7 linked regions of the Homo sapiens genome follow. The protein of the gene in region 1 purifies or fractionates together with the protein of each later gene. This does not show direct contact. Each region holds a gene or a part of one and is shown in the gene's direction. Other genes may lie near its edges. The genes, in order: TMED6, LRP12, ATF6B, ITGA2, KCNJ8, VEZT and POMT2.

Region 1 (4,255 bases):
CACTCCTGTGGGTCCAGCTACTTGGGAGGCTGAGGTGGGAGGATCGTTTGAGCCCAAGGGGGTGAGGCTGCAGTGAGCTATGTTTGTGCCACTGCACTCCAGCCTGGAAGACAGAGTGATACCATCTCAAGGAAGCAAAAAAAAAAAAAAAAAAAAAAGATTAGGACTGAAAAATGGTTAGGCAGTGTCAGAACTCAGAGACTGACAGCTTGAGAATGAGAAACACTGTCCTGCCTGGTGGTTAAGAGCATGAGCCCCCACCGGGGACCCAGCTCTGCCAGGTGTGCTTGTGGGAGCGTGAGCCACCACTGGAATCTCTGAATGTCTGTGTCCTCATCTCTAATGCCAGAGCTCACAATACCTCCCTTGCAGGGCTATTGTGAGAATAAAATAAGATGCAGGTAAATCTTAGCTCAGTGCCTGCCATGAAGGAGGTGGGTGTTGAAATCATGAATAAAAGAATAAAGATTAAGGATGTGAATAATATAATTGTCTTTAAGTGGGTTCTGGATAGTTTTTTCCCCCATGGGTGCTGAAGAAGTCCTGAATAAAAGAAAGATCAAGGCTGGGCGTGGTGGCTCATGCCTGTAATCCCAGCATTCTGGGAGGCCGAGGCGGGTGGATTACTTGAGGTCAGGAGTTCGAGACCAGCCTGGCCAACATAGTAAAACCCTGTCTCTACTAAAAATTCAAAAATTAGCCGGGCATGGTGGCAGGCACCTGTAATTCCAGCTACTCAGGAGGCTGAGGCAGGAGAATCGCTTGAACCGGGGAGGTGGAGGTTGCAGCGAGCAGAGATCGTGCCACTGCACTCCAGCCTGGGTGACAAAGCTACGCTCCATCTCAGAAAAAAAAAAAAAAAAAAAAAAAAAGATTGAGGCTTTGGATAATATAATTGTCTTTCAGTGGGTTTGGATAGCTTTAGGTGACCGTTAGGTGAAAGGCATCAGGACGAGGACTGTCAGTGGAGGGGTCTAAGCACCATCCTCTGGCACTGTATTCATCCATTTACATCTTTGCACACACATGCTGTGATTTGCTCTGAGCTGCAGCATTGGGGAGAGAGAAGTGTTGCCCCATGTGTTTATAGGAGCAATTTGATGTAAGAGAACAATCCCCCCAGCCAACTTTTTGTCAGTGTATTCAGAAGTTGTAAACTTACCCACTATTATATCCCCAAGAAGCAGGAACTAAAAAATGACAGCCCTAATGAAGGGTGGAAAGACCTCTTCTGAGGTGGTAGATTCTATGTAGCACCCATGAAGTAGGTTTGGTAAGCCACTGAGTTTTTGAGGTGAAAGCAAAATTTCCTCCTGCGAGCCAAACATGGGAGTATCATGGCAGTTCTATGATGAATATCTATGTGTGGCCCTGAAATGGGCCGTAATGTGACTTGTGGAGTTAATCATTAGCCCAGCGGTTGTCTGAACGACTTGATTTCCCTGGGCTGCGAGCAGTTCACCTGCAGAGGAGGCTCCAGAAAGCGGCATGTCCCCTTTGCTCTTTGGGGCTGGGCTGGTCGTTCTGAATCTAGTGACGTCTGCCAGGAGCCAGAAGACAGAACCTCTAAGTGGCTCTGGGGACCAGCCACTCTTCCGTGGAGCTGATCGATATGACTTTGCCATCATGATACCTCCAGGAGGCACGGAATGCTTTTGGCAATTTGCCCACCAGACTGGATACTTCTATTTCAGTTACGAGGTATGTGGGTGACTGGCCATACTGGGGGGCTTTTTTTTTTCTCCTTTACTCATAAAGTGGGTCAGGTTTTAGGCCAAAACAAGGTCTGGTTGTCTTTATTATGCTGTGATTCCCCACCTGTTAATGAAATGGACCTGCAGTTAGAGGGAAACTCCAGCTGGGTGAATAATCACCAACAGGAGCTAAAACATATGGTTTGGCTTCTTACATCAGGGGCCATGCTCAAAGCCATGGGGCAGACGGGGTGCCTCTCCCTGAAGAGGTAATCATTACATGTACTCGGATTTGGGGATGAGAGGGGAGAGAATACATTTTTAATATATTAAAACAAAATTGGATAATGGTGCTTTGGAGACTGATCCAGAGATTTCAAAGAAGGCTGCTTCAGCTTATGGGGTGGGGGAGTAAAGGTTCTGCTGCCTTTAGGAGCAATTCTGGCAAGTCAGAGATTCACTAGGTCAAGTTTTTTGTATTCGGCCAGTTAATCCTATTTTTTTTTTTTAGGACGGTAAGTGTTTTCAAGTTACTTATTCAAAGGTCAAGTACTTTTACCCATACTATGGTCTTATATCATGCTGTCCAAGGATGGTGAACTCAGTATGAAAGTTAGAGGCTGTTCATTTCCTTTGTTCTTTATCTTAGAAATCGGTTAACTTTCTAATTTTTGTTTACATAGTAATAGACTTTGTTGATCTTACTCCACTGTAACAACATTTATTTTAAATAAACTTATCAGAGACTTTTCTTACCTCTGAATTTCTATTAGAACAGCAGCCACTACTAAGCTCACTGTGGCCTGGCCTAATCAAGATCTAGCTTGGGAGCAAGTGTCCATGGAGTGCTTGTTGTAGGTGTGCACTGCCAAGCAGCAAATGCCCAAATCTGGGACATCATTGGGGAGCTCAACCACCAAGCAAGTTCATTCAAGAACTCTACAGCCAGGCCGGGTGCGGTGGCTCACATCTGTCATCCCAGCACTTTGGGAGGCTGAGGCAGGCGGATCACCTGAGGTCAGGAGTTCGAGACCACCTTGGCCAATATGGTGAAAACGCATCTCTACTAAAAATACAAAAATTAGCCGGGCTTGGTGGCATGTGCCTGTAATCCCAGCTACTTGGGTGGCTGAGGCAGGAGAATCGCTTGAACCTGGGAGGTGGAGGTTGCAGTGAGCCAAGATCACTGCACTCCAGCCTGGGTGACAGAGCAAGACTCCGTCTCAAAAAAAATAAAAAATTCTACAGCCAGAATCGTACTTTTTTTTTTTTTTTTTTGACAGAGTGTTGCTCTGTCGCTCAGGCTGGAGTGCAGTGGCATGATCTCGAGTCACTGCAATCCCTGCCTCCCGGGTTCAAGCAATTCTCCTGCCTCAGCCTCCAAAGTAGCTGGGATTATAGGCGCACGCCACCATGCCAGGCTAATTTTTGTATTTTTTAAGTAGAGACAGGGTTTCACCATGTTAGCCAGGCTGGTCTCGAACTCCTGACCTTGTAATCTGCCCACCTCGGCCTCCCAAAGTGCTGGGATTACAGGCGTGAGCCACCGCGCCCGGCCCAGAATCATACATTTTAGTGGATCCACACTAGCTGTGTGTTCCGAGCAAGGCATGTCTTCTTCACACGGGTGCTGTTGGCATTCTGGGCAGTTCTTTGTCCTGCTGTACTGTTTCTTACATTGCAGACGTTCAGCAATGCTGTGCTGCCTCCCCTTAACACCATCACTGTGATACCTCAGAATCCTCCAATCAACTCCAAACCCCAGCAGGGGGTTGGGCAGTCCCACCCCAGACAGAGACCGCTGTGCTGATGACCGTGGGACGTCAATCTTACCACTCAGCTGGCTTCCTCGTGATGTAGCAGGGGTTCTGCTACCTATTTAATGTGTCTTGGCAGGTTCAGCGGACAGTGGGGATGTCACATGACCGGCATGTTGCTGCCACGGCACATAACCCACAGGGATTTCTCATAGACACCTCCCAGGGTGTTCGGGGCCAGATTAACTTCTCTACCCAAGAGACAGGTCTGTTTTCATTACCATGGCTATTATAATAATCATAGGGTCCTATGAAATTACAGAAATAATGAGGAAGTATACAGAGATGTTTTAACAGTAGGAAAAAAATTCAGCCTTTAACACCAAAAACCAGTGTTCCTGGAGGCTGCTGACCTCCAAGGATGCCAAGTGGCAGTCTACTGACGATTTGGGGGCAACACTCCAGGTGAGCATTCTAAGTCTAGGGTTCAGCCGCTCAATTTTATCTCATCATCTCCAGTTAATCAGATTCTGGGAAAGTGACCAAAAAACAGAGACCCATTTATAATACAGAATTCCAATTAACAAATGGATTACAGGGAAGCATGTCTTTCCAGTCATCAGAATATTTGAGTCAGTTACTAAAAGCAGATTCAGAACAAAAGAAAATGCATGATATCCATGTGAGATATCCACACTCCACAGCAAAGCACTCCTCCAGCCAGGTCAAGCCTGTCCCACTTTGGAGAGCAGCAGTGTCTTAACTGCCCTCTTTAATAGCCAGCTGCACTAAAAAAGACATTTT
Region 2 (3,978 bases), on another chromosome or scaffold:
AGTCCGTGCCATCTTTAAGAGCTGTTAACAGTCACCGGGAAGGTCTGCAGCTTCATTCTTGAAGTCAGGGAGACCACGAACCCCCTGGCAGGCACCAACTCCGACACATTACTAGGCGCTAAGCATTGTGCTAGAGAGTTTGCTGTGGTATAGGGGCAACAATCTTTACTTTGGAATGAGAAAAACTGTTTCAAACAACTTACTTGCCATGAGTAATTTAATTTCTCTCTTTTCTATAAAACATGGGTAATATTTATCTCACAAGGATGTTTGGGATTAAAAAGTGACAACCTATGTCAATAGGACAGCATGATGCAGTGTAGGTCTTCAATGAATAGCATGGAGAGTGCTTGCAAAGGGCAACGATAAAATCTAATATAAATAAGACGTTGTAGACAAACGCTTTAAAAACACAGGGGGTAAGGTCTGATGTGCCAGCGTCACTACAGACGTACTTAGAAAAGTGTTCTGGGGATCTAAGTAAAGGAGGACTCCCATTTGCTGGGAGTGAGAAAAGAGCTTTAGGGAAACTGCAGCGTGATGGGCGAATCCTCCTTTCAATATATCTACCCTGAAAGTCGGCTCCAGCCCTGCCGAACATCCTGGCCCAGCTGCACCCGACCCAGCGTGAGATGTCAAATGACCTCTTGGCGCTTCCACGCCAGACTGGAGGGGCTCTGCACAAGCCTTGCCCGACTCATTCCGGGCACCTTGAGCGTGGGAGTCCACACTGCCCCTTGACCGACCAGCTGCCAGGTTGGCCGCACTAACTTGAGCCCACCCCCACTCGAAGCTCCGCGCCGACAGCAAGTGGAGACTTGGGGGTACCGGATAGAGGAAGGAACTCCCAAGTTGTCAGCTTCAGACCATCCACGCCTCCCCCAACACGGAACCACCTTCAGCCTCCCAGCTGGTATCCCACCCCCCCTCCCCCCACCCGCTGGGCCAGAGCCCAGCCCTCGGACAGCGACCGTGCTCCTCCACACACCCCGCGCTCCAGCCCCTGGGCATCCAGCAGCCGGCGTTCGCACGCTCTGTCATCGATTGGCGCTGCCTTGCTCCTTGGGCTCCCGTCGCGTGGAAATCGGCCCGAAACTTGGAAAGTCCAGCGGAGCGCGGGGAGGGAACCGAGGCAGGCGGGCCAGGGGATTGCCGATCGCACGGATGGGCGCGCGCTCAGTCTGGCGAGTGGCGGCGCCGGCTAGCCCGAGCGGCGCGAGGCCGGAGTCCGGCGTCCGCCACCCTCTCGTCTCGCGCTGGCGCGCGAGCTCCTTGCCCTTGCCCCCAGGAGGGCCGCCCCGCGTGGGGCTCTCGCACCGCCCGGGGTGGGAGCAGGCGAGCCGGAGGGAGGAGGGAGGAGGGAGCGCGCGCGGGCGGCGGCGGCCCCTCCCTTCCCCCTCCCGCAGCCGCGGAGAGCGCAGGGAGCAGCCGGTGGCTCGGCGGCGGCGGCGGCGGCGGCGGCGGCGTCGGCGTCGTCTACCTCCAGCTTCTCCTCCCTCCTCCTCCGTCTCCTCCTCTCTCTCTCCATCTGCTGTGGTTATGGCCTGTCGCTGGAGCACAAAAGAGTCTCCGCGGTGGAGGTCTGCGTTGCTCTTGCTTTTCCTCGCTGGGGTGTACGGTAAGTGTCCGCGTCCCCGCGCCCCGCTGACCGAACAAAGCTGAGGCGACCCGGGCCCCGAGGCCTCCAGGACGGGGGTTCCCCTGGAGACTCCCGCGGAGACCCTGGCTACCGGCGGGACAAAGACCGGTGAGGGGGTGGATGTGGCGGAACGGGTGTCCCCACACGGAGATGCTTTTCTCCACTCGTCCACCTCCAGACCCTCGGGTGGTGGAGAGGGGCTGGGGGGCCCGGCCGGGAGGGCCCCGGCGGAGCGAGGGGGTGGCGGGCGGACTTCCCGACCTGGGTTCGAGGGCCCCCGCGGCCAGTTGCTCCAGGACCCGTAGCCTGGCACAATCCACACACAAAGATGCTTGACTGTGAGAAAGCAGAGGAGCTCGCCCCCGCCGCTGCCGGGACGGTCCTTCCCCCCGCCCCCTCAACCCGGGGTTAGGAAGTTCTCTCACCGGCGAGATTCCCACCGCGCCAGCCCTTGTCCTACTCGATTCCCTGAAAAGGCTTCCCGCTGACTTCTCCCCACTCCACCTCGGGGGCAAGGGCTCTGCCGAATCCGGGCGTGCAGGGTCCTGTTGGTTCCCCGGGAGCAGCACGCGGGAGAAGGCCAGAAAATAGTTTCCAGCCCCACCTCAGTCTCTCCTGTTAGGGTGTACACATCTGTCCTGACTCCTAGTTCAATTGTAATTTCATCCATCCTCGTCCGCCGCTGTGGTCACTGTTACTTTATTCCAGTCGATGGATCGGGTTAGAGATAACTCCTTTCGGGTTAAGAGAAGGCTGAAGACTGTGCGGACAGCTTTATATTGCGTTGGGGTCTGAGCAAGAGCTGAATGGAATTAATTGCAAAGAACATCTATCTCTTAAGATAATTAAGTTACACTTCTGACTTCACCGTTCTTAGTTCATCAGTTAAACACACTGAATAGGTATTTCAGAGAGCTCAGTTTTAACCTTTCCTTTTTGGAGTGTTGCTCTGATTTCTCCAGAAAAAGAATTAGAAGATATCATTACTTTGGTAAATTTTACTTATAAAAAGTCTAATTCATTTGCCACAAACATTGATTTGACTAGTATAATGGTGGTGGTGGTGAGGTTTAGTCAACAGCCAATTTGTCAGCAAGTGTTATCTCTTTTGAAGGCATTTATCTACGGAATTGAATGTGATGGTGGCTTTTGAAACCTGGCAAGTGACGCTAAATGAAGAATTAATGAACGTAATTGGGCATTTACTGACAGCCAAGAAATTCTTTTTGGTACAATTAAGGATGTGTTGCTCCCGTACCTGATTAGTAGTATTTTTGTTTGTTTTGGTGAGGAGAGTAGTTTGGTCCATTTTTTATGTAGGGGTAATTGCCAGAGGTGTGCTTGTGTGGGACCAAAAACCCAGTACACGACTTTTGATTGTTAGCTGCATCAAGTGGCTGTAATCCCTGCTTGCCTGATGACTTGTGGGTTTGGGTCTACACCAGAGATCAATAAGCTATTACGTTGTTTCTTCTGCCCTGAAGGTGGGTATAGTTCTGCTCTAGGTTTGGTGTAATGGCCCAGGAGAGAGAAGAAATTGAGAGGTATCTTTAATTTAGGGTGATTAGGATTGTCCAGCTTTGTCCTCTACTATAATAAGCATTGAATTTCTGTGATGTCCGATCAGAATAGATAAATAAATGGGCTCTTCTTTCATTAAAACCTGTGTCATCAGTGTTTGAACTAGAAGTCTTTTGCCTCGAGGGATAAGAGGCTGTGAACCCCTCAATTTGTTTTGGTGCATTCTTTAGTACTTGTACACAAAGTGACTTTCTGGTAGGTGCCTATCAAAGCTTTTATCTTTTTGGAATTTGTGTTCAGTGAGGAACACAAATTGTTAGTAAGCAAAGACTGAAACTCCTTTTTCCAACAGTGTGGGCCGCAGATTATAAAACCAGCAGGTGATTATGCCAAAGGTTGATGTCTCAAGCCACAGCAGGTTTCAAAGTGTAAAAAAAAAAAGGAGGTAGTGAACCAGGCAGAACATTAAACTATATCAGCAGAGATTAAAGGGAACCCTTCACCCTGGAACTGAGAAATCCTCTTTATGGCTGCATGTTTTTTGTCCTCTTCTGTCTCTAACCATATGTGGGTTTATAATAGTGAAAAAGGGCTGTAACAATAGTATGGGGTGGATGTGGTTCTATAACAATAGTGGGAATTGAGTAACTTAGAATATATAGTAGTTGTAATGGGTGGTGGATGCATCCTGAGAAATAGCTGTCGCCTTGAGCCTGTTAGAACAGATACTAGCTGTAATTTATGAAACTGTCCTCTATACAGTAAAAAGTGTGTGTGTGTTTTAAAAGGCTTCAAAAATAATTAGCTCTGTTAATGAA
Region 3 (3,483 bases), on another chromosome or scaffold:
TATTAAGTGCTTACTGAGTTCTAGGCTCTAGGTGATGCACTGTCTTTTTTGTATGTAGGGACCATCCTTATTCCCATCTTACAGAGGCAGACTCAGGCTTGTATAACAGATTGCAACTCAAGCAGTCCATCTGCAGAGTCTTTATTCTTACCTAGATACTTGATACAGCTGAAATTCTTCATTGTGCTCAGTCCTTCTTTATCCACAGCATCAGTGAGCCTCCTTCAGCTCCCATCTCTCCTCGGATGAACAAGGGGGAGCCTCAACCCCGGAGACACTTGCTGGGGTTCTCAGAGCAAGAGCCAGTTCAGGGAGTTGAACCTCTCCAGGGGTCCTCCCAGGGCCCTAAGGAGCCCCAGCCCAGCCCCACAGACCAGCCCAGTTTCAGGTGAGGAGAGAGAGAGAGGGCCCCCTCTCGTTTGAGGGTATGAGTTGGTCTTCTCCCCGCTTTCAGTGAGGGGGACCCAAAGCTTTCTCTTGCCGTCATCGCCTTCTTTGTTGTGGGAGTGCTGGGCAGTCTCCAAGTGTTGTCTCCTTCCTGCTTCACTCCAGCAACCTGACAGCCTTCCCTGGGGGCGCCAAGGAGCTACTACTAAGAGACCTAGACCAGCTCTTCCTCTCCTCTGATTGCCGGCACTTCAACCGCACTGAGTCCCTGAGGTGTGGGATTCATTGCTGGGGCATCCAGCTCCCCCGGCCTCCCAAGGCCTTCTGCAGTCAGCCTGGCTGGCCTGTGTACTAAAGCGCCAGTGCTCCCTGCCCTCTCCTCACTCCTGTGGGTGGGCAAGGAGGGTGGGAATCTTGGCCTGGCATGGAGGTCCTGAGCTCCTCCATTTCCCCAGGCTTGCTGACGAGTTGAGTGGCTGGGTCCAGCGCCACCAGAGAGGCCGGAGGAAGATCCCTCAGAGGGCCCAGGAGAGACAGGTAGGGCGGGTGGCTGGTTCAAGGAAGGCCACTTGAAGACAAGGGCTAAAGGCCTTGTCTGGGGATTTCTAGTGGGCATCTCGCTGTGGAAGTTTGAGGGATCGTTTGAAGGAAGTGGAGGGTTGAGTGGGAGGTGGCATCAGCTTCCAGGGGCTGTTTGTCTCTTTCCCTTTTCCCTTCACCCTCTCCAAGTCCTTAGATACTTCTCCTTCCAGAAGTCTCAGCCACGGAAGAAGTCACCTCCAGTTAAGGCAGTCCCCATCCAACCCCCTGGACCCCCAGAAAGGTGAGTGTGGGGTGGGGTGCTTACTTATTAAGTGAAATTCCACTTTCAAGAGCTGTACCCCCAGTAGCTGTCCTGTGCCTGTCATTACTGTCACCAGTGGGATTATACCTCCCTCCTCCACTGGGGGTCTCCTGTCTTTTTCTCTCATCCTACCCGCTTCCCTGGTAGAAACTGAGCATTGGGCTTAGTTCCCCTCAAATCCTGTTTCCCCACCTGCCTAGGGATTCTGTGGGCCAGCTGCAACTATATCGCCACCCAGACCGTTCGCAGCCAGCATTCTTGGATGCAATTGACCGACGGGAAGACACATTTTATGTTGTCTCTTTCCGAAGGGTGAGTTTCTCCTGCCCTTCCATCTCTGTCACCCCAGGTTCCCAGCAGTCTGTCTTCAGTGGGGGGATGTAGAGTAGGGCTGGGGAGCTTGTTGGCATCTTTGCCTCCACCCTTCTGGCCTGGCCCATCTGTTCCCCAGGACCACCTGCTGCTCCCAGCCATCAGCCACAACAAGACCTCCCGGCCCAAGATGTCCCTGGTGATGCCTGCCATGGCCCCCAATGGTAACTCTTTCCCTGCTGGGTATGGGGGCAGTTCCAACAGGGAGATCCAGCCTGGGAGCTGAGGGGGAAGGGGGAGAGGAGCAGGGCATCCAGAGAGCTGCTGGACCCACAGGTGAGAAGCAGCAGGAAGTAGGTGGAGGGAAGAGCACCATGCAGGAGACTTGGGAGGGAGACAAGGGTGAGGGTCCTTCCCTGGTGAAGGTGCTTGGGTAGATGACTGGGCAGAGGCGGGGGGCCGGGAACCTGCTAGACTCTCACTTACTTTTTTCTCTTGATGTCCTCTCCTGTGTGACCCCACACTCAATGCCCTTTTCTTTTCCTACCCTCTCCTTGCCCCTGCACCAAACTCTGTCCCTGCCATCCTGTTTAACTCCCGCTATGGATCTGCCTCCTCACTATTGCCCTTTCTTTTTCTCTCTGCTCACCTCTACTTTTCTGACCTCCTCCCCTCCTCCCTGCAATCCCTGTTTGCCTCCCCATCTCCTCTTCCTTAACTCTCCCCTTCTCACAGAGACCCTGTCAGGCCGTGGGGCCCCGGGGGACTATGAGGAGATGATGCAGATCGAGTGTGAGGTCATGGACACCAGGGTGATTCACATCAAGACCTCCACAGTGCCCCCCTCGCTCCGAAAACAGCCATCCCCAACCCCAGGCAATGCCACAGGTGGCCCCTTGCCAGTCTCTGCAGCCAGCCAGGCCCACCAGGCCTCCCACCAGCCCCTCTACCTCAATCATCCCTGACCTCTGCCATTCACACTGACTTAGAACGGGGGGAGGGGGTACCAGGTGGCCAGGTGGGACTGTTTCAAATTTCCCTGATCCCCAGGCTTGGGGCAATTGGTAAAGGAAAGAGCAGGTGTGGGGGTTAAGCACTTATTTGAGGTGGGGGTGTTCACCTCTCTTCTCATCCCTTTTCAGAATATAGGGCTCCTCTCATTCCTGTGAACCCCCAGTCCTGGCTTCTTTGTTTGAGGGGATTGTGTGAGGTTCAGTTGTGGGGTGGGTGGTGAGCTGCTGCATATTTTTTATTTTGTTTCTCTAGTGTTATGGCAGTGGAGGTGGGAATTTAGTCCCCAGGTGGGACAAGGGAAGTTTTTTCATTTTGGAGCTAGTTACTGGGAGTAAGGGAGGGTGGGGTGGGGGGGAGTTCAGGTTTATGTGTGTGCATTTCTTTTTTATTATTATTAAATAAACAACTTGGAGGGAGTTGAAGGAATGGTGGCTGCCTTCCTGGCTCGTGATGGGGAGTTTGGGGGAAAGTGGCTTTTCCAGAGCCAGCATCAAAGAATCAAGCACTGAAGACATAGCTGGCTCTGAGGTGGGGTGGGTGCGGGATCACAGACCGCATGTCATCCCCTTGCCCCCACCCCTGCAACTCTGGGGTATATCTGTGTCTAGCAACGATGTCTCATGGCGTGACAGACTAGAGGATACGCATCCCTGGAATGTGAGTCAACAGGAAAGATGGGGCCCCACGCCCTTCAGGGTGAGCAGCCTCTGGGTCTCCTGCTCTCGAGCAGGTTCTCCCCCTCTTCTTGCTGTCCAGGATGAGCAGCTCAAACAAACAACAAGAGCTGGGGCCAGAGGCTCAGAGCCCAGGAAGTGGGGGTCTCGGTGAAGAAGGGGTGATATTTGGAAGGGAAGGGGGATGTGGCAGGATATCCTCTAAGCCCTAAACTGGAGGGGACTGAGACTTGAGAGTCCAGATGAAAGACA
Region 4 (3,500 bases), on another chromosome or scaffold:
TCCCTCAGAAAAAATGTAAATGAATCTATGCACGGAGAATTTTGCACACAATCCCATGAGGTTTTTGTACATACGCTGAAGTCCTTTCATGCACCCCAAATCCAGAGTCCCTCAATTTACTACAGTCATTCACATAACTTCATGGTCTCTTATCCTCAAAGTAGAACACATCTTTTCCTTACTTGCTATTTTTCATGGCTTGTATTTTTTAGTCCAACATCTTATCTTTGGTACGCTCTAAGATAGAAGAACAAAAAATTAAAAATAGTGTATCTCATCCTCACCAAATCTGCCTCGTTTGATGATTTATAGCATTGAGTGTTTAGATTGGGTTTCAAGTCAATCCAGAGTAGGCATCTTCCTTTGCCCTCCCCACAGGGCTGACAAATGGTTATTTTCCTTCCAATAGATTGAATGTCACAGCTAAAGTTGCCTCTTGTAGCTGTGCTATTATCAAATAGATGGAATATAGGAATATACTGGAACATTTGAGAAGGGGTCAGGAAGAGAGAGGAAGAAAGCTGAAAGTAGAACAGGTCAGAAGAGGGCCTCCCGAGCCGTGTCTGGGATAGCAGAAGTATCTCCGTCTCTCCCGTGTCAGTACTTCTGTTTCTCAAGCATGTCTCATATCCGGCTGTGAGCTTTCCTTATAAATATGTGGAGTGAGAGACTCACTTCTGACTCCTTTGTAAAGTTCATAAGGGTTTACCATTGGCAAATATATGCCTTTGAAAGGGAAATTTGAAGATGGCTCTGTACCTGTCCTGTACTACAGGTTATTACAAAGGTTTGTCTGTATAACATATCATACTAAATAAAGTCCAAAATAACACAGCCAATGGGAAGGCTTGTTCTCTAGCACAAATATATTAAGACAATTCTACAATATGTCAATATATGTTCATATATATTTCATCATTTTTAATAAATCTAAACAACTTATTTCAATGTTTTGCCTACCCTGCATTCTTATGTTTTAAAGGTGATTTGTTTCAATGATCTTCATTTTTCAATTATTTTAGGATATTCTGATGCTGGGTGCAGTGGGAGCTTTTGGCTGGAGTGGGACCATTGTCCAGAAGACATCTCATGGCCATTTGATCTTTCCTAAACAAGCCTTTGACCAAATTCTGCAGGACAGAAATCACAGTTCATATTTAGGTAAGGCATGGTAATAATTGGCTCAGCAAACTTAAGTTCCCTTGCTTTAAACCAGCTCTTTGTTGAATCTCAGGGTGAGTTCAGCAAAATCCTTGAACTGTCATCTAATTATCATATTTATTACACATACATATGTTGTCTCTTTGCCAATCGGGCCTTAAGGCATAACTACTTATTGGAATACTATATTATACTCACTAGTTTCTTCTGGCTGGTCAAGTGGTTGTAATTCCTGGAACATGATTGTGTTCCTCCAAAATGGAAATAGTTCCCAAAAGTCAATACAGTAAGTGATAGTCTTATAGTATTTTAGAGCTCTTAGTCTTCTTGTTCTTATAATAAGCAGCCACTGATTTTGCAGACTTACTATGGGACAGTTCCTGAGCTGCTAGTCTATCTACATAAACATTTAAATCTTTCCAACAAGTCTTTCAGGGATGTTTTGCCTTTGAGAGATAGCAAGATTAACAACTTGTCTAACGTTCAACAACCTAGTAAGCGGCAAATCCAGAATCTGAACCTCAGCCTGTTTCCAAGACCTGTGTTCTTTCTACTGTGCAACACTACCTTTTAAATACATTTATTCATTCGTTCAAGAAATATTTTTTGAATGCCAGGTTCACAGGTGGCTGATGAGAACAGCGTGGAATCTAGAGGCAGTTTTATAGGTAGAAGTCCCACCTGCAAAGGGAAGTGCTGCAGGTCAAAGGACAGGAGCAATTCATCTTAGAAAAAGGAAGACATGTCCTCAGTGATGTATTCAGGAGCACTAGAAACTTTGCATCACATCTAACACAAAAGGATCTCTGGTCACCTTTACTCACTTCTTTTAACTTTATTTTGCTCAGATAGTCAATGTTAATCACTCTGTTGCTCCTTCCCTTTTAGGTTACTCTGTGGCTGCAATTTCTACTGGAGAAAGCACTCACTTTGTTGCTGGTGCTCCTCGGGCAAATTATACCGGCCAGATAGTGCTATATAGTGTGAATGAGAATGGCAATATCACGGTTATTCAGGCTCACCGAGGTGACCAGGTAAATCTCACTGTTTAGCAGGTGAAATTAATTTTAGGGGCAACTGGGCAGGTGGGGAGTCAGGTGAACAGAAATGGAAAACAACATGGCCTGAGTGCCTACTCTGTGATTGGCTCTGTAATCTGAGTTTACTTAGTGTATTCCTTAAATCATCACAACAATACCAAGAAGACAGCCCTCCCTTTTGACAACTTACTGGGAATTTAGCTAGCTTTCTAAGGTCACACAGCGTCCATGGATTGAGCTGTCATTAAAACTCAGTCCTTTCTGGACTCAGAGGCTGTCCTGAATGATTACATCCCCTTCATGTTTTTGACTCCCTGGATTAATAATGCATGGATATTATTTAGTTGTGATGGCAGGCATGTAACCACTGCTTTGTAGGTAAGCACACACTAGGAACAAGGATTTGGAGAGGAAATAATGAGAAGAAGGGAGCAGCACAACATTATAAGGACTGAACTTTTACATCTGAACCTGTCAGAATGTCCTGTTGGTTTTGAAGATTCTAAAAGTAAAACAATTATCTTCTCTGCCACTTTCAGCTGATGGGTGACAGTTTGGTAGTTAGACCCTATGATGAATCCCAGATATGGCCCACTACAGCAAAGATCTGTTGCTAGAGCAAAGGCCAGCTGATTGCTTCCTGTTTCCTTACTAAACAGTTTTGACCCAGGGGCTTGACACACATTTAAAATGAGCATCACTAATCCCTGACAACCAACAAAAAGTGGTTTCCTTCTTTAAGCTGGAGAAACTTACAAAGATTTCTCTTCTCTGAGATTAAGTGTGATCCTGCTGTTCCTATGGATTTTCTAGGAGTAAGAAGACCCGAGTTCTTGACTTCCGTGACCACAAATTAGCTATGGTCACATACTTTTCTCTCTTTTTTAATATTTTAAAGAAGTTCTTCTTTAATTTAGAAAATAACAGTGACAGTGTTATGGAAGGAATCATTTCTTAGTCATTTCTAAATCCTCAAAAAGTGTTCACATAGGCATGCATTGAACGTTGTTGAATGGGATGAAGGTTCAAAGTCTCAGCTTTTCTTATTTTAATTTATCTCCACCTTGTCCTCCTGTCCCAATCTATCCAGCAACTACTTACCTGTCTCATATCATGCCATGTACACTTACATCATCATATGTGCTTTCCCACTTCCCTCTGCCTAGAAAACTCCATGTCCTTCTTACTTTGCAATTTGAATGATATTTTAACTTTCTAAGCCTTCCTGACTCTCCTGCTCTCTGATCACTCAGCCTTTGGGACTTGCCTCTATTACAATTTATTTTACTATAGAAGCTT
Region 5 (3,500 bases), on another chromosome or scaffold:
AATGGTAACAGCAAACCTTAAAAATCTTCATTCTCTCCCAATGAGAATGTAAAAGGTGACTAATAATAATTCTAATTCTTTGCATTTTTCCCTTTGTGAATTCAATGTCCAACCATATCACTAAAATTGGAAACAACATTTTTCATTGAATATTCACCAGTATTTCCAAATAATGTTTGACCATTCTTCTCTTAGGGTGACTCATTTTCTCCTCCATGTATTTTCTCCTGCAAGGAGTCTCTTTGACTCCATTTAATATGAGTCAAAAAATAGACCAATATATTTCCTCTTTCTCGATATTATCCAGCCTACCTCTTTCTGTAACAGAACAAAGAAACAGCTAAACACTTTTATCTCTTGAGATTGTTTAGCATAGCAAGTGTCAGTAAAAAGCTGGGTCTTGTACCATATGTAATATTTAGAATTCATAAACAATATACAAAATGTGGCTCATGAATAGTCTCTTAAACCATTAAAACAAACTATTTGGGATATTTATCATTAGACTGCTCTCTGAGGTATGGATACATTATCAGAAATCAGTGTTGTATCCATACCCCTTCTCTGGGGTCCATTTTTATTCTTGCCATGTTTTGGGGCTATACCAGATATCTTTTTGTGGGTAGTTAGTGCAATAGGCAATTACTGTAGTTTTCCATGAATCATTTTAGCAACAAAAGAGAAAGGCAACTTTCGCACTTCACTTAAAAGCTAATCAAAAGAATAATCCATGTATTCTTGCTTATCCCTCATAATTTTCTACCAAAGTGCACTGTACATACCAAGTACTCAAATGTTTAAACATTTTTCTCACCTGCTGTCTGTAGCATTAATAAATAGGTAATACTTTGAGAGATTGCTAATGTGTAGGCTTGTCTTCTATAAAGTTAGAGAAGTTTGAAATTGTGGTTGGGGGCAAAGATAGAACTAATATTGTTTCTATGAAGAAGCCACAGCAGTACTTGTTGTGAAATTAAGTGTTATAAATTGATAGTAACAAATGTGGTGCTTCCCATATGGGAGTAAATCAGAATCCCCTGAGAACTTTTCAAAAGCATCTTACCCAGATCCAACCTCAGCCTACCAAATCAATGTCTATTCACTAAGATAGGGAGTAGATGTGCAATTTGAAAAAGCTTCCCAAGAAAATCCTACAACTTCTTGGTTCCTTCCCTCTGCTTCTTTCACAGGATTAGGCCAAAGTGAGAAAATTCAAGTTAGTATAATATTAATTACAGGTATACCTTAGAGATATTGCAGTTTTGGTTCCAGACCATTGCAATAAAGCAAATATCAAAATAAAGACAGTTACACAAACCTTTTGTTTCCCAGTGCATATAAAACATTTATATTATATTGTAATCTAGTAAGTGTGTAATACCATTATGGCTGAAAAATATACATATCTCAATTCAAAAAATATTTTAATGCTAAAAAATGCTAATGTTCATCTGAGCCTTCTGCAAGATGTGGTCTTTTTGCTGGTGGAGGGGCTAGCCTTGATATTGATGGCTGCTGATTGATCTGGGTAGTGGTTGCTCAAGGTTGGGGTGGCTGTGGCAACTTCTTAAAATATGACAATGAAGAGTTTGCTGCAACAATTGACTTTTCTTTTCACAAAAGATTTATCTGTAATGTGTGATGCTGTTTGATAGCATTTTACCCACAGTAGAACTTCTTTCAAAACTGGAGCTAATCTTCTCAAAACCTGCCACTGCTTTATCAACTAAATTTATGTAATCTTCTGAATTCTTTGTTGTCATTTCAACAGTGTTCACAGCATCTTCACCAAGAGTAGATTCCATCTCAAGAAACCACTTTGGTTGCTTGTCCAGAAGAAGCAACTCCTCATTCATCCAAGTTTTATCATGAGATTGCAGCAATTCAGTCACATCTTCAGAATGCCCTTGTAATTCTAATTCTCTTGCTATTTCTACCACATGTGCAGTGACTCCCTCCACTGAAGTATTGAACCCCTCAAACTCATTCATGAGAATTAGAATGAACTTCTTCCCAACTCCTGTTAATGTTAATATTCTGACCTCCTCCCGTGAATCACAAATGTTCTTAATGGCATCTAGAATGGTGAATCCTTTCCAGATGGTTTTAAATTTACTTTGCCCAGCTCCATCACAGGACTCACTATCTATGTCAGCAATAGCCTTATGAAATGTAAATTTCTTAAGTAATAGGCCTTAAAAGTCGAAATTACTCCCTGACTCATGGCTGTAGAATGGATGTTGTGTTAATAAGCATAAAAACAGCAATCAACTCCTTCTACATCTCCATCAGAGCACTTGAGTGACTAGGAGCATTGTCAATGGGCAATAATATTTTGGAGGAATCTTTTTTTCTGAGCAGTAAGTCTCAGCAGTGGGCTTCAAATATTTAATAAATCATGCTGCAGACAGATATGCTGTCCTCTAGCCTTTATAGTTCTACTTATAGAGCATAGGCAGAGTCAATTTAGCATAATACTTTGGGGCTCTACGATTTTCAGATTGATCAATGACCATTGGCTTCAACTTGATGTTACCAGCTGCATTAGTTCCTAACAAGAGTTAGCCTGAACTTTGATGCTTTGAAGCCAAGCATTGACTTCTATCTAGTTATGAAAGTCCTGGGTAACATCTTCTTCCAATAGAAAGCTGTTTCATTTTCAACACTGAAAATCTGTTGTTTAGTGCAGCCACCTTTACTAATTTTCTTAGCTGGATCTTTTGGATAACTTGCTGCAGCTCCTCCATCAGTACTTGGTGCTTCACCTAGCACTTTTCTGTTTTGAAGGTGGCTTCTTTTCTTAAGCCTCCTGAACCAATCTCTTCTAGCTTTAAACTTTTCTTTTGCAGCTTCCTCACCTCTCATCCTTCATAGAAATGAAGAGAGTTAGGGCCTTGCTCTAATTCAGGCTTTGGCTTAGGGGAATGTTGTGACCTAGTTGGTCTTTTATCCAGACCACTCAAATTTTCTGCATCTCAGCAATGAGGCTATTTTGCTGTCTTATCATTTGTGTCTTCACTGGAGTAGCACTTTGAATTTTTTTCAAAACTTTTTCTTTCCACTGTTCACAACTTGGCTGTTTGGCACAACAGGCCTAAACTTTGGCCTATCGTGGCTTTTGACTTGCCTTCCTCACCAGCTTAATCATTTTTGCTTTTGATTTAAAGTGAGAGACAGCGAATATTTCCTTTACTCGAACACTTAGTGTTCTTTGTAGGGCTATTAACTGACCTAATTTCAATAGTGCTGTGTCTCAGGGAATAGGAAATCCTGATGAAAGGGGAAGAAACAAGGGAACAGCTGGTCAGTGGAGGACTCAGAACACACACATTTATCGATTGTTTGCCATCTTATATGGGCATGGCTCATGGTGCCCCAAACTAGGGGTTCCCAATCCTTGGGCTGCAGACCAGTACTAGTCTGTGGCCTGTTAGAAACCAGGCCACATAGCAGGAGGTGAGCAGTGGGGGAGCAAACATTACCTCCTGAGCTCTGCCTCC
Region 6 (3,500 bases), on another chromosome or scaffold:
CAACAGTACTTTGCATTTGACTTCCTGCTCCCTAGAACTCTCTTCCTTGATGATTATCTCATGGCTCACTTCCTTCAGGTGACACTTTTAGAGACCTCCCCAGCCAGCCCCTTCTCCTCTCTCCTTCGCGCTTTCTGTCTCTCTCCCCCCCTTTCATATGTGTACACACACATACACACACACACACACACACACTATTCCCCCCCTTTCATATGTGTACACACACACACACACACACACACACACACTATTCCTCTTCTTTGCTGTGTTTTTCCCATCAACCAAGAAACACTATCTTTCTTTTTCTTCCTCGACAATCATTACTGCAAAAGGGAAATAGTATCTTTTACTTGTAAATTATTATCTGTGCCCCTCTACTTGAATATAAGCTCCATCAGAGTGGGGACTCTTCATTTTTGCTCACTGCTGTTTATCTGCACCTAGAACAGTGCCTGGCACATCATGGGTGCTCAAGAAATCATTTCTGAATGAACGAACAAAAGAATAAAAATCATTGTAATCATAAAATTTAACAGTTGAATAAGAAGGCTTGCAAGTAAACTTGCAAGTCAAGAATCCCTAGATATCACATCTGTAGCAACTAGGAAATTAGGCCTTGGTCACTTTAAAAAAAAAATAAGTTAATGGTAAAATAGATATACATGAAATAATCTTAATTCATTATTGGCATAATTTTAAAATTCATTTACTAAAACCATCTAAATACTGTCTATTTTCATGGTTGTGAATAATTGGAATCTAAATTACCCAAAGTGGTTTCATCCTCTTTTTATTCCCTGCTACCTCTTGTTTCATACTACATTGTTTCCTCATGCATTTGTTTCGGAGATATTGTCCTCATCTTGAATAGGACTATATCTGGAGAAATATTTTGCTGCCAGGATTCAGGATGTATCTCAGGAACGGGCCTATGAACATATTCAGACTGCATTTTAAAAAAAAGAAGAAGAATGGGATTTATCCTGGCAACATACTGAGACCCCATCTCTAAAACTTAAATATTAGCTGAGTATGGTGGTACATGCCTGTGTTTCCCGCTACTCAGGAGGCTGAAGTAGGAGGATCACTTGAGCCCAGGAGTTTGAGGTTGCAGTAAGCTATGATAGTGCCATTGCACTCTAGCCTGGGCAACAGAGCAAGACTCTATCACAAAAATTAATTAATTAATTAATTAAAATAATGGGTTTTGCAATTTCTCATGTCAGACATTCCTGGAGTATTGATTTTTTTTTTTTTTGGATGGAGTCTTGCTGTGTCACCCAGGCTGGAGTGCAGTGGCGCCATCTCAGCTCACTGTAACGTCTGCCTCCCAAGTTCAAATGATTTTCCTGCCTCGGCCTCCGAAGTAGCTGAGACTACAAGCACATACCACCATGTCTGGCTAAATTTTGTATTTTTAGTAGAGACGAGGTTTCACCATGTTGGCCAGGCTGGTCTCAAACTCCTGACCTCAAGTGATCCATCCGCCTTCACCTCCCAAAGTGAGCCACTGCGCCTAGCCCTGGACTGATTTTTATGTTAATTTCTTAGCTAATTCCTAGGGCAAGGTAATAGTCTTATTTTGAAACCCAAGCTTTTGATCCATGTGACTCATTTCTTTGGAGAGAAAAAAATATATATATATATGTATATATATCCACTAGTCCTACTATCTTCTTTTCTCCTATGTGAAAATTTTTTTTAAATAATGAGTGAAGATTCACTTTTACTAAATTATCTCATTCCATCAACACTTCCCATCTAGGGCAGAACTGTAGTAAATTATATATTGATGTTACCTGCTGTATTGGAATCAGAGGTTCCCACACACATAATTTGAAATCATATTCTTGGCTAATCTTAAGGTAGTTTAAGTTCGGCTATATTTATTATTTAGGATAAAGTGCAAAATTTAAACCAGAAGTTAAGATAAACAAATTTATAGTTTGTTTTGAACACTGACCAATATTTTTATTGATCTAGTTCTTTTTTCTTTTTTCTTTAAGGTTTTGTTCCAACTCTGGGTGGCACAGAGTTCAGAGTTCTTCAGACGGTTAGCCCTATTACTTTCTACAGCCAATTCACCTCCTGGGCCCTTACTTACTCCAGCACTTCTGCCTCATCGTATCTTATCTGATGTGACTCAAGGTCTACCTCATGCTCATTCTGCCTGTTTGGAAGAGCTTAAGCGCAGCTATGAGTTCTATCGGTACTTTGAAACTCAGCACCAGTCAGTACCGCAGTGTTTATCCAAAACTCAACAGAAGTCAAGAGAACTGAATAATGTTCACACAGCAGTGCGTAGCTTGCAGCTCCATCTGAAAGCATTACTGAATGAGTAAGTTTAGAAATTATACCAAGAAAGGTCTCGGTAATTAGCAAGCTTCATTCGTGTACCATTGTGGTTGTTGGCTTGTGTCCTACCTAGAAAAAAGAAACAAAACTGAGGCATGAGCATGAAGGGTGATTTATAGCTATAAATATAGCAAAAAAAAAAAATAATTTATAAGTACTATAACTTGAGGGAGTTATTATTTATAGTTTTTACTTTTCCTTAGTTCAACAGAAAACTTGGAAAAGTAGGCTAAAAGCAGGTGTTGTTCATTCTCTTTGAGAGCTGAAATGGAGATGGTTATAAAGAATGAGTTTCTTTTAACTGTCTTAAGGTAGTGCTCTTAAACTGGAACCTGCAGTCCAATAGAAATATCTACCAGTACTGGAACAGTATATATGTTATATATAGTGGAAGAGTAACATATTGCTATTTTTCTAAATAAATTACAGCAGATCTGAAAATTTTTTTGTATCACAGGACAAGCTTTGTGGTCCCAGTTGAAGAGCAAAATGTAGAGTCTAGAGTTTATATTTGTTCATTTCCTACCTTGCATGAAATTGTTGGTATACTACCTTAATTCCTAAATTTTTATGTCCCACTTTGGTATACCTTTATCAGCTGAAAATACTATTTTCACATATTTGTACATGGAAGTTTTCAAGTTTAAAAATTGAATCAAGGCATTTAATTGAATACAGTCATTTCCAGTGAAATTTTTCTCTAACAGTTAAATACTCATCGTGTAGGACTGGATCAAATGAATGGTTGGGTTCAAATTGTGTTGGTAATCAGGAAGGTCCTAGGAATTTAAAGAGCTGACAAGATTGTAGTTGATGTACTTGACCCTGGGATACAAGGCAAGAAGTGGAATGGGGAAGGCAGTATTTGATTATGTAAATAAGAATGGGTCAAAAGGACTTGATACATCAGCAAAATCAAAAGGCTAAATCAGCAAATCAAAATCACTGGAATTAGGGAGGATAAGAGATACAAGGATAGGAACTTAAAGTCAGAAAGATATTTTTAGAAGCTAAGTTTTTACCCATCAGTTCAAGGCCTGAGTTGGGCTTGATATAAGGCTTGATATAAGGCTGATATAAAGATTATGGCATAGGAAAAATGAAGACACTATGAACTCAGGGTATTCCAGTGGTCTATATCTGCT
Region 7 (3,500 bases), on another chromosome or scaffold:
TCACTCTACCCACAGCATTGCAGGGAGGTGTAGCACTTGTTATTTTTCCCCTGGTAAGCCATTGTCAAGTGGACTTCCCTGGAAGTGATTATGTAAGCAGTACTCAGTACATATAGTTGACTTATTTCACCAGATTAAATTTTAAAAATTCAAATTTTGTCATTTTTGCGCATTGGGAGGTGATAAGTTGACATTAAGCATCTCTGGGTCACTTCCTTTCTGACTCTCTGCTTGTAGCTGTCACTGTGGCCTGATGACATAGCTCTTTTGAACATGTGCCTGTCAGTCAGAATATCATTCTGGGCCTGGGTCAAATTTTAAGACTAAATCTACGAGTTTCATTTTGTCTTTCATTATCTAAGAAGTAGAGTCAGAGAAGAAAAGGGAAGTAATGAGAGCTTTCTTATTCAGCCAACAAAGAGTCAGGGAGGGGAGAGAGATGAAAACAGTGAGTCCAGACTATAGAAACTGCAGGGGCAGGGCTCTTCCGCTGGCTGAGTAGTGGCCCGGGACCTGGAGGAGAAGGCTGCCTTGCCTGGTGCAGTTACAGGAATGAGCCCATCCAGATTTCAGCCATAGAGAACAACTTACAAGTACATATGCCTGTGATGGTTGCAGATTTTTCTTTCCTCTTTTAGTTTAGCAACAGAGCAGGATTTCTCAGAGTTTAATGTAGTGAATAAGATTCCCTTGGCTTGGTACAGTTCTGGCTGGAGTCCTTGGGTTTGGGACCAAACTGTACAATTTGAAGGAATTGGTTTCCCTCAGCAACTGCCGCAGGGGTCCAGAATGATTCATTCCTCATTCCCAGGTCCTTCAAAGGGCCGCAGTGACGCTGGGGCCGTGCAGCTGTCCCCTTTGTGTCTGATGCCCTGGATGCACTTTTGACCTTGGAGGCACAACCTCTCCACCATGTAGAGGCCTGTAAACTATTCCCAGCCCCTTGCTGAACTGGATTCATAAGGCACTGGGTGGCAGTCCACTGAACTTTCTGGGTCTTTCTTAGGCTATACCAGTGGTTCTTAATTGAGGGTGATTTTGCCTCTCGGGACTTTTGGCCATCTGTGGAGAAATTTTTGGCTGGGAAACTGAGGGGTTGAGGGTAGGAGTGCTACGGGCATTCAGTGAGTGGAGGCCAGGAATGCTAAACACTCTGCAATGCACGGGACAGTCCTCACAGCAAAGACTCATCCAGCCCGAAATGTTGGGAGTGCTGAGGTGGAGAAGCTCCGGCCTAAGTCATGGCAGCTGACTCCCCTTCTGGGGAAATGCCTTTTCAGTCTGTCCCAGTGATAAGGCAGAACCCAGTCCTAGTGGTTAATATCCTGGATCCTGACCCTACTCCTTCCTGTTTTAGCAAAGACCTGGTTTGCCCTGTAGAGAAAGGTTAGCAGATGTTCTTGGCTGCTGGATTAGGGAGGCTGAGTCTGGGTCCTTCAAACCAAAGCATGCATTAGGGTTGATTTCTCTCCCAATAGATGAAATGTGTTCTTGGAGGGCAAAATATCTAATTTTTTATGTATAAAGCACAAGTAAGATGTACAGTATAAAGTATTAAAATGTCATGGAGTGTGTTTAGGGAGAAACTTGTCTACAAAGGCTCCTGGTAGAGGGGCAGTAGTGGAAAAAAAAGGTGGAGAAGCACTAAGCTAAAGCAACCTCTTCCAAGTCTAGGCACGCATGAGAGTTTCTGCTTTTCTGTTTGAAATTGGCCCCTGAAGGGAACAAATAAGTAAGCCTTATTATTTATTTATTTATTTATTTATTTATTTATTTATTTATTTATTTTGAGACTGAGTCTTGGTCTTTTTGCCTAGGTTGGAGTGCAATGGCATGATCTCAGCTCACTGCAACCTCCGCCTCTTGGGTTCAAGTGGTTCTCCTGCCTCAGCCTCCCAAGTGGCTGGGATTACAGGCACCCACCGCTACGCTCAGCTAATTTTTTGTATTTTTTAGTAAAGACGGGGTTTTACCATGTTGGCCAGGCTGGTCTTGAACTCCTGACCTCAGGTGATCCACCCGCCTCGGCCTCCCAAAGTGCTGGGGTTACAGGCATGAGCCACTGCACCCGGCTGTAAGCCTCATTTTATATCCCCTCTCTCCCACCATTTTCACACCTTGTCCTTAGCTTGGCAGATGGGTATATATTTTGTGCCCATTGGAACAATTTCCTCTTTCCCTTCTTTTTCCCTAGAAGGTTGGAATGGACCCCTTATGGGAGATGGAGGCTTGTCTGGGAGAAGTAAAGCAAGTGTCGTAGGTAGGCAGACAGCAGCTGCCTGATTCTTCCCTGCAAGGGAAGGGAAGGAGAGAAGGTTCTGCTCGGCGCTTGGCCCTATATCAGAAAAACCTGGGCCCCACATTTCTGTCAGCCCTCTAGATCTCTGTCTTGACTAGCTTTCTTTGCTACCTTCATGCAGGGGAACAGTGGCCTCAAACCCAAGGACAATGAGTTCACGTCCAAACCCTGGCACTGGCCTATCAACTATCAGGTAGGATCCAAGGCTGGGGCTCCTCCCAGGAAATGGAGCCAAGAACAAGAGCAGGGAGACCGGTGGAGGCGGGGGTGGGTGTACTAGGGCGGCAGGGCGAGGGGCCTCCTGGGATGGGTTGGCCAGAGGTGGGAGTATCTGTTTTCTGCCCTAATTCTGACCCTGCTTCCCAGAGAGCTCGTGTAGAATTTGCCAGCCTGAGGTTCGTGTCCAGGCTCCCTGTCTGTGGAAGGTGACCATCTTCCTCCCCCTAATGGGTGTGGCCGAGGATGGGCTGGGCCTGGGTCAGCAGGGTGGTCTCTATTCCACAGGGCCTACGCTTCTCAGGGGTCAATGACACAGATTTCCGAGTCTATCTGCTTGGCAACCCGGTGAGTGCCTAAACATTCCCGGCTCAGGCCCTGGAGCACTTGCCCGTGGAGAGCGGCTGCGTTCTCATCTGCCCATTCCCATTTCTGCACAGGTGGTTTGGTGGCTGAATCTGTTGAGCATCGCCCTCTACCTCCTCTCAGGGAGCATCATTGCTGTAGCCATGCAGAGAGGGGCACGGCTGCCAGCGGAGGTTGCAGGTCAGGTCCTCTGGGCTCTCCCTCCCCTGACCTGGCGGCAGCAGGGCACCTGCACCCCTGGGGAGGGCCGGCTGCCTGCTGATGGGCCATCCTTTGCGTTTACCACCCCACACCTTCCCTTATCCTTTGCTTTTGAAAGGTAACAACCCCCAAGTACCCAGTGCTGTGTTAAACACTTTACTTCCTCCCAACAACACTAGAGCGTTGGCTATTATGACCCCCATTTTATGGATTAGGAAACCAAGGAACCATGAGATTAAGAAACTTGCCCCAGGACATACAGCTAGTAAGTGATAGAGCTGAGGCTCAAACCCGTGCAATCTGACTCCACAGCCCTCACTTTTAGCCCCATGCTGTGTACAGAGCTGCCCATCTTTTCTGCCACCTCCTTGTTCCATGGCCCTGTCCTCTCATGGGCTAGAGAGGAGCCTCCAGGGTT

The links.
Region 2: the proteins of TMED6 (region 1) and LRP12 purify together in Homo sapiens (affinity purification with mass spectrometry; 2 studies listed by BioGRID and IntAct, with this or other methods). This does not show direct contact.
Region 3: the proteins of TMED6 (region 1) and ATF6B purify together in Homo sapiens (affinity purification with mass spectrometry; 2 studies listed by BioGRID and IntAct, with this or other methods). This does not show direct contact.
Region 4: the proteins of TMED6 (region 1) and ITGA2 purify together in Homo sapiens (affinity purification with mass spectrometry; 2 studies listed by BioGRID and IntAct, with this or other methods). This does not show direct contact.
Region 5: the proteins of TMED6 (region 1) and KCNJ8 purify together in Homo sapiens (affinity purification with mass spectrometry; 2 studies listed by BioGRID and IntAct, with this or other methods). This does not show direct contact.
Region 6: the proteins of TMED6 (region 1) and VEZT purify together in Homo sapiens (affinity purification with mass spectrometry; 2 studies listed by BioGRID and IntAct, with this or other methods). This does not show direct contact.
Region 7: the proteins of TMED6 (region 1) and POMT2 purify together in Homo sapiens (affinity purification with mass spectrometry; 2 studies listed by BioGRID and IntAct, with this or other methods). This does not show direct contact.

The regions. Positions count from the first base shown.
Region 1 is NC_000016.10:69,348,987-69,353,241, reverse strand, and holds the start of TMED6 (transmembrane emp24 domain-containing protein 6 precursor), read left to right. Parts: upstream 1-1,455; 5' UTR 1,456-1,488; coding exon 1,489-1,701; intron 1,702-3,590; coding exon 3,591-3,717; intron 3,718-4,255.
Region 2 is NC_000008.11:104,586,459-104,590,436, reverse strand, and holds the start of LRP12 (low-density lipoprotein receptor-related protein 12 isoform a precursor), read left to right. Parts: upstream 1-1,178; 5' UTR 1,179-1,539; coding exon 1,540-1,618; intron 1,619-3,978. UniProt on the Homo sapiens protein: Probable receptor, which may be involved in the internalization of lipophilic molecules and/or signal transduction. May act as a tumor suppressor.
Region 3 is NC_000006.12:32,114,764-32,118,246, reverse strand, and holds the end of ATF6B (cyclic AMP-dependent transcription factor ATF-6 beta), read left to right. Parts: intron 1-208; coding exon 209-388; intron 389-552; coding exon 553-660; intron 661-842; coding exon 843-924; intron 925-1,139; coding exon 1,140-1,210; intron 1,211-1,431; coding exon 1,432-1,543; intron 1,544-1,682; coding exon 1,683-1,767; intron 1,768-2,278; coding exon 2,279-2,508; 3' UTR 2,509-2,983; downstream 2,984-3,483.
Region 4 is NC_000005.10:53,058,852-53,062,351, forward strand, and holds part of ITGA2 (integrin alpha-2 precursor), read left to right. Parts: intron 1-1,022; coding exon 1,023-1,161; intron 1,162-2,049; coding exon 2,050-2,195; intron 2,196-3,500. UniProt on the Homo sapiens protein: Integrin alpha-2/beta-1 is a receptor for laminin, collagen, collagen C-propeptides, fibronectin and E-cadherin. It recognizes the proline-hydroxylated sequence G-F-P-G-E-R in collagen.
Region 5 is NC_000012.12:21,768,207-21,771,706, reverse strand, and holds part of KCNJ8 (ATP-sensitive inward rectifier potassium channel 8), read left to right. Parts: intron 1-3,500. UniProt on the Homo sapiens protein: Inward rectifier potassium channels are characterized by a greater tendency to allow potassium to flow into the cell rather than out of it.
Region 6 is NC_000012.12:95,280,307-95,283,806, forward strand, and holds part of VEZT (vezatin), read left to right. Parts: intron 1-2,006; coding exon 2,007-2,338; intron 2,339-3,500. UniProt on the Homo sapiens protein: Plays a pivotal role in the establishment of adherens junctions and their maintenance in adult life.
Region 7 is NC_000014.9:77,279,384-77,282,883, reverse strand, and holds part of POMT2 (protein O-mannosyl-transferase 2), read left to right. Parts: intron 1-2,420; coding exon 2,421-2,492; intron 2,493-2,803; coding exon 2,804-2,863; intron 2,864-2,955; coding exon 2,956-3,061; coding exon of another isoform or gene 3,062-3,200; intron 3,201-3,297; coding exon of another isoform or gene 3,298-3,347; intron 3,348-3,500. UniProt on the Homo sapiens protein: Transfers mannosyl residues to the hydroxyl group of serine or threonine residues. Coexpression of both POMT1 and POMT2 is necessary for enzyme activity, expression of either POMT1 or POMT2 alone is insufficient.